Homo sapiens: one gene and its partner. The protein of the gene in region 2 purifies or fractionates together with the protein of the main gene of each other region. This does not show direct contact. Each region holds a gene or a part of one and is shown on either strand. Other genes may lie near its edges.

Region 1 (3,825 bases), on a different chromosome or scaffold from region 2:
TAATCCCAGCACTTTGGGAGGCTGAGGCAGGTGGATCACTTGAGGTCAGGAGTTCAAGAGCAGCCTGGCCAACATACAGAAATCCTGCCTCTACTAAAAATATAAAAATTAGCCGAGTGTGGCATGTGCCTGTAATCCCAGCTTCTCAGGAGGCCGAGGTGGGAGAATTGCTTGAACCTGGGAGGCGGAGATTGCAGTGAGAGGAGATCGTGCCACTGCACTCCAGCCTGGGTGACAGTGACTCTGTCTCAAAAAAAAAGCATCAGATCTCAGTGAGGTGCAGTGGCTCACGCCTATAATCCTAGCACTTTGGGAGGCCAGGGCAGGTGGATCACTTGAGGTCAGGAGTTCGAGACCAGCCTGGCCAACATGGAGAAACCCTGTCTCTACTAAAACTACAAAAATTAGCCAGGCATGGTGGCAGGCACCAGTAATCCCAGCAACTCAGGAGGCTGAGCCAGGAGAATCGCTTGAACCCAGGAGACAGAGGCTGCAGTGAACTGAGATCACACCACTGCACTCCAGCCTGGGCGACAGAGCAAGACTCCACCTCAAAAAAACAAAAACAAAAAAACCATCAGATCTGTATAAATCTTACTCAAACCATTAATGCAAGCCAAACACCTGAGTGGGCTTACAAAAAACTAGAGTATCAGAAAACTAAAGAATTCGCTTGACTTCCATTATAAAACAGAACCACATAGACAAAGCTGTAAGAAATAACTCTCATTGACTAAAGACGAATCTTTGAGTAAATGAAAGCAGTAACTGTTTTTAACAAGCAAAGCCGCTCAATGTATCTACACTGGAAGAGGACAAACAAGGCTTTGGGGGCCCTAGAGAATGCAAGGGGACTCCACACACTGGAATGCTACCAGGGGTGGACTCTGGATGCCTGAATTATGAGTGATTTTGTTTCTGATTGTTGTATGTATCTGACTGTACTTGGCATATTTTCTACAATAACCATTGCTTTTTATCATCAGAAAAATTAAAAGTACAAAAAGAATTGCATATTGAGAAAAGATTTTTACACAAATTTTTATATAATTATGTATTTCTTTCCACTTAAAACATAAAACCATTACCTAAATGAATGGATTTTCAAAACAAGAAAGAAAAACCCTATTGTAAGTACTATTGACACCCTGCACATAGTAGGTACTCAATATATATCTCTTGTTATATTGGTTAGCTATAGATCACTATCAGATGAGCTTGAATCTTACTCATGAACACTCCATATATGCACACTAGAGATACCTTGTGATTCCCCAATTCTCAGACCCATACTGTTAGTCAATATACAGCCATTTTTATACTTAACTATCAGCATTCTATATGTCCATTTATGACACTCTGGCAATTACATTAAAATTTCCTCACCAATCTAGGAAGAACTCTTATCTACCATACAAACTATAATATCAGTGTTATTTCCACTATGCCAAAAAATAAAGTGTTTTTATCACAGTGATTTATCTTGCAGATGTGTTATTTATATACACACATCTATTATACATCAAAAATTGGAGAGTAGAAAAGAACAAAAATTACACACATAAAATAAAAAAGGGGGTGAGATGATGTACTAGGAACAGGAGAAAACTAAACTTCCAGCTTCAGTTCCATTTAGAAGTACTGACAAGATAAAGAGCATAGCTTAAGCAGTTTCTGAACAGCTGCACAAGTCCCAAAATGATATATGATTTTTTGCATTACAAGCTTCACTGCTAACTTGAAGCTATTTTGATAAATAGTTGAACAGGTGTAACTAAATTTGACATGTTATGAAAATATACAGGACCAAGATGAACAATTGTAAAGTAACCTAAATTTAGAAATCACTCTAAATGAACAATAAGATTATAACTGTGAAAAAGTTATTTTTTTTAGACAGAGTCTTGCTCTGTCACCCAGGCTGAAGCATAGTAGTATGATCTTGGCTCATTGCAACCTCCACCTCCCAGGTTCAAGCGATTGTTCTGCCTCAGCCTCCCAAGTAGCTGGGATTACAGGCGTGCAACAACATGCCCGGCTAATTTTTGTATTTTTAGTACCGACGGGGTTTCACCATGTTAGCCAGACTGGTCTCAAACTCCTGGCCTCAAGTGATCTGCCCACCTCGGCCTCCCAAAGTGCTGGGATTACAGGCGTAAGCCACCACACCCAGCCCAAAAAGTTATTTTTAATAGAATCTTTCAACATTAATCTTTTCTAAAGTATACTTTGGTCAAGACACAAAGTGTAGCATTTGTGACATTCGGCAAGCATTTAGAGAATTAAGATAATTGGTACCAATTTCAAGTTAAATGCCCTTCATTATACCTCTCACGAAAATAAGCTAAGTGTGAAACAAAAAACAAAAAGCCATGCACTAACATATCTGCAACATCTATGAGATAAGAGCAAGCAACAAATTTTTAAAATACTAAAATTTTTAAAAATATTGCTAGGAATTTTTTTTTAATTCTAGAAATTAGATTTCCTTTCCATAAACCACCTACAATCTGGAAAGTATGCTTCTTCCTAATGGTCTTTTTTCTATATGAGCCTGTGAACATCTCCCCAACATACACACTGCTACAAAGAACCACAACTCAAATTGCTGAAACACTGGGTCAACCTCTTTTCAGCTTTCCATGTCCTTAATGTTTCAAGGCAGCTCACTAGAAATCAAATGGGTTCAAATCACATTCTTGGAGTTTCAACAAGATTGGTGATTTATTGTTTACTTAAACATATCACGTGTGAGAGTTTGGTTGTGTGTCTTCCATACTCACCTTCCAACTCAATGGAGTCAGCAATGGAGAAAGTGCCATGTACCACATAATGGCCAGGACAAACAATAACAGTGTCACCTTCGAAGCAGGCATTTATAGCAGACAATGGATCACTATGGAACTAGAAAACAATAAGAACACATTTGTAAATATACACTCCCAAAAAAGTAATTTGAGTATTACTCTAGGTGACTTCATGTCTTACTTTGAAAATGGAAGCCAAAAACTGCATATTGAAGCATCTCCTTTGATAGCGCACTGACCTAACACATGCCTGGTAAGTGACTACTGCTGATGAAAGGCAGGGCTCTCACTACTTCCCATGCACAGAAAACCGTCTTGGGAAAGCTCCTGTAAATACTTTGTGGGATTTGTGAAAACCTGTGGTGAATCAGAAGGAAAAAAAGCCACCTGGAGTGAGAAACTCTCCGTTTACCTGAATTTCTCTTTCTTCCTCACCAGGCTCCTGGCAAAGCCTGTCCGTAAGCAGGGACCGCAGGAGACCAGCCATCATGGTGGAGGAGACCACATGAGTGATCTTCTGACCGCTGGAACGGACACCCTTTGCTTGGATGTTAGAATTCTTCTGATAACCAAACACATACCTTAAAGAAACGAAACAGGCCTATCAGTAAGACAGCAAGTAAGAAAAGATGCTGACTAACTAAGAATTACAAAGACACACATACCTCAACAAAGGATTCTCAATGAGTTTCAGCTTTTGTTTCAACTGTTCCATCTCCGAATACAATTTTAACCCTTCCACCATGGAGATATTTTCCTGCTCGGAATCAGAGTTACAATTTGACAAACTGCTTCTCAGATTTAAAAATTTCCTGTAACTCTCCTCACATTGAGACAACAGATTGTGGTAGTCAACAATAAGTCCTGATGGAACTCGGTCTTCAAGAATGTCATAATGCCTGAAAGTTTAAAAGCAAAGTGAAATCCACTGCCTTTCAGGCACATTTTCCTATCATTAAAACAGCCCACTTAGCCCTCAAAGACCCAGTAAGAGTTTTACAGTATATAACTCAGGTGC
Region 2 (3,654 bases):
AGAAAAGATTTATAATGCTCTAGGTGACATGTATTATGTGGGTGGGTCTGTACTGAATATGTGTAGGGTCTTTCTCATATCATGATTCACTAAACAATATAATAACAACTATTTACATAGCTTCTATGATGCATGATGTATTTTAACTAATCTACAGATGATTTAGAGTATACAGGAGGATGTGGGTAGGTTACATGCAAATATTTTTTATTGTTATTATTTTTTTGAGACAGGGTCTCATTCTGTTGCCCATGCTAGAATGCAGTGATGTGATTTTGACTCACCGCAACCTCAACCTCCCAGGCTCAAGCGATCCTCCCACCTCAGCTTCCCTAGTAGCTGGGACTACAGGTACATGTCACCACACCTGGCTAATTTGTGTATCTTCTGTAGAGACAGGGTTTTGCCACATTACCCAGGCTGGCCTCTAACTCCTGGGCTCAAGTGATCCACCTGTCTTGGGCTCCTAAGGTGCTAGGATTACAGAGGTGAGCAACTGTGTCTAACCCAAATATGTCTTTTCTTTCTTTCCTTTTTTTTTTTTTTTGTGTGTGTGACAGAGGTTGTTTTGCTCTTGCTGCCCAGGCTGGAGTGCAGTGGCGCGATCTTGGCTCACCGCAACCTCCGCCTCCCGGATTCAAGTGATTATCCTGCCTCAGCCTCCTGAGTAGCTGGGATTACAGGCATGTGCCATCACATCCGGGTAATTTTGTACCAAATATGTCATTTTTAAAAAAGGACTTGGCATGTGTCGATTTATGTATGCCCAGGGGGTGGTAGAACCACGCTCCTGCAAATATTAGGGGATAACTGTATTTGAAAGAAACTGAGGCTTAAAATTAAGGCTTTACTATGTGTTTACATTCATAGGGTTTATCTCCAATGAGAATTATTTCTATCTGAAATGAAATAACATTAAAGAATACTTCCCTACATTTCACACATTTATAGAGTATCTCTCCAGTGAGTCCTTTTATGTCTATGCAAGGACCTGAGAGAACTCAATGCTTTTCTACATTTCTTACATTCATATGACTTCTCTCCAGAGTGAATCCTTTCATGTACTTTTTTTTTTTTTTTGAGACAGGGTCTGGCTCTGTCGCCCAGGCTGGGGTGCAGTGCATCTTGGCTCACTGCAACCCCCACCCCTTGGGCTCAAGAGATCTTCCCACCTCAGCCTCCCAAGTAGCTGGGACTACAGGGGCATACCACCACACCTGCTACTTTTTCTATTTTTTGTAGAGACATGGTTTCACCATTTTGCCCAGGCAGGCCTCAAATTCCTGAGGTCAAGCAATTTGCCCACCCTAAGTGCTGGGATTACAGGCGTGAGCCACTGTGCCCAGCCTCATGTACTTTTAAGTTACCAAAATGACTGAAGGCTTCCCTACATATTTTACACTCACAGAGTTTTTCTGCTCTGTGAGTTGTTTTATGTTGACAATGGTGTTAAAAAAAAATCGATCACTTTCCCACATTCCTTATATCATACAGCATCTCTCCAGTGTGAGATATTTCATGATTTTGAAAGGAATAAAAATTATGAAAGGCTTTCCCACATTTACATTTATAGGGTTTCTGTCCAGTGTAAGTTTATTCATGATATCAAAGGGAACTGGAAATATAGAAGGCTTTATAATAGTTTACATTCATATTGTTTCTCTCCAGTGAGTCTTTTCATGTCTTTGACATACACTGGGATAAACAAAGGCTTTCCCACATACCTTGCATTTATTCGGCCCATCTCCCGTATGCATTACCATATGTCTTCGAAAGCTTGAGCTATGAGATAACGCTTTCCCACACTGCTTGCATTCATAGGGTTTCTCTCCACTGTGAGACTTTTCGTGTCTTTGACATACACTAGGATAAACAAAAGCTTTCCCACATATCTTGCATTTATGAGGTCCACCTCCAGTGTGCATTATCATGTGTCTTCGAAAGCTTGAGCTATGAGATAACGTTTTCCCACACTGCTTGCATTCATAGGGTTTCTCTCCAGTGTGAATTCGTTCATGATATCGAACTAAACTGGGACGATCAAAGCCTTTCCCACATATCTTACATTTATGAGGTCGATCTCCAGTGTGCCTTTTCATGTGTATCTGAAAGCTTCCAAGATGATGAAATGTTTTCCCGCATTGCTTACACTCATAGGGTTTCTCTGCACTGTGAGTGGTTTCATGTCTTCGAAGGGAACTGGAAACACTGAAGGCTTTCCCACACTGTTTACATGTATATGGTTTCTCTCCAGTGTGAGTTCTTTCATGTCTTATATAGGAACTGGAATCAGGCAAGGCTTTAGAACACTGCTTACATTCATACGGTTTCTCCCCAGTGTGCATTCTCTCATGTCTTCGATAGGAACTGTAAAAAGGAAAGGCTTTAGAACACTGCTTACATTCATACGGTTTCTCTCCAGTGTGAGTTCTTTCATGCATACGTAATAAACTGGGCCAAAAAAAAGCTTTCCCACACAACTTACATTTATAAGGTCTATTTCCACCTTGCACTACCATGTGTCTTCGAAGGTTTCTACGAGAACTGAAGGTTTTTCCACATTCCTTACACTCATAGCGTTTCTTTCCAGTGTGAGGCCTTCCACGCGACTGAAAGGAGTGATGGTAACTGAAGGCTTTCCCACGTTGTTTATGTGTATGTGGCTTCTCTCCATATTCCTGATACTCATGTGGTTTGTGTCCAGAATCAACTCTGATGTGGCTATTAAGGGATAAATGACCCATTATGACTTCTTCACACTCAGCGCTTTGACATGGATCTTCTCCAGGACAAATGCTGTTGTTCACAATACTATCTCGAATGAGGCTAAATGTTTCTCCACACTGACTACTGTCTTTACTTTCACTGAATCTCTCTACCATATGACATCTGTAAAAAATGAGTAGTACGTTACTAAATAGTTGTTTCTAAATGATTATTTATTTATGTGTATTAATAGGTATTGGATGTACTTTTTTTTTTTTTTCCCTGAGATGGAGTCTTGCTCTGTCACCCAGGCTAGAGTGCAGCGGCACGATCTCGGCTCACTGCAATCTCTTCCTCCCGGGTTCAAGCGATTCTCCTGCCTCAGCCTCCCAAGTAGCCGGGATTAGAGAGGCATACGCCACCACGCCCAGCTAATTTTGTATTTCTAGTAGAGACAGGGTTTTGCCATGCTGGCCAGGCTGTTCTCGAACTTCTGACCTCGTGATCCACCCCCCCTTGGCCTCCCAAAGTGCTGGGATTACAGAAGTGAGTCACTGCGCCTGGCCAGATATACCTTTTTATCATTACCATGCAAAGTGTAGGCTTCATGCCCTGTTTGAACATGAATGAACTGAATGCTATGCAAGACAACCCAACACCAGCTGGGTTTTTTTTTTTTCCTTTTCTTTTTAATTAATTAATTTATTTTTTGAAACAGTATCTTGCTTTGTCACCAGGCTGGAGTGCAGTAGCAGAACGATGGTTCATGCAACCTTGACCTCCTGAACTCAAGTGATCTACCTACTTCAGCCTCATGAGTAGCTGGAACCATAGGTGTGCACCAACACACTTGGCTAATTTTTTTTTTGAGACGGAGTCTTGCTCTGTCGCCAGGCTGGAGTGCAGTGGCGCAATCTCGGCTCACTGCAACCTTCGCCTCCTGGGTTC

Evidence for each region.
Region 1: the proteins of ZNF563 (region 2) and SHCBP1 purify together in Homo sapiens (affinity purification with mass spectrometry; 2 studies listed by BioGRID and IntAct, with this or other methods). This does not show direct contact.

What each region holds. Positions count from the first base shown.
Region 1 is NC_000016.10:46,600,756-46,604,580, forward strand, and holds part of SHCBP1 (SHC SH2 domain-binding protein 1), read right to left. Parts: intron 3,707-3,825; coding exon 3,473-3,706; intron 3,389-3,472; coding exon 3,220-3,388; intron 2,905-3,219; coding exon 2,784-2,904; intron 1-2,783. UniProt on the Homo sapiens protein: May play a role in signaling pathways governing cellular proliferation, cell growth and differentiation. May be a component of a novel signaling pathway downstream of Shc. Acts as a positive regulator of FGF signaling in neural progenitor cells.
Region 2 is NC_000019.10:12,316,945-12,320,598, forward strand, and holds the end of ZNF563 (zinc finger protein 563), read right to left. Parts: intron 2,890-3,654; coding exon 1,650-2,889; 3' UTR 533-1,649; downstream 1-532. UniProt on the Homo sapiens protein: May be involved in transcriptional regulation.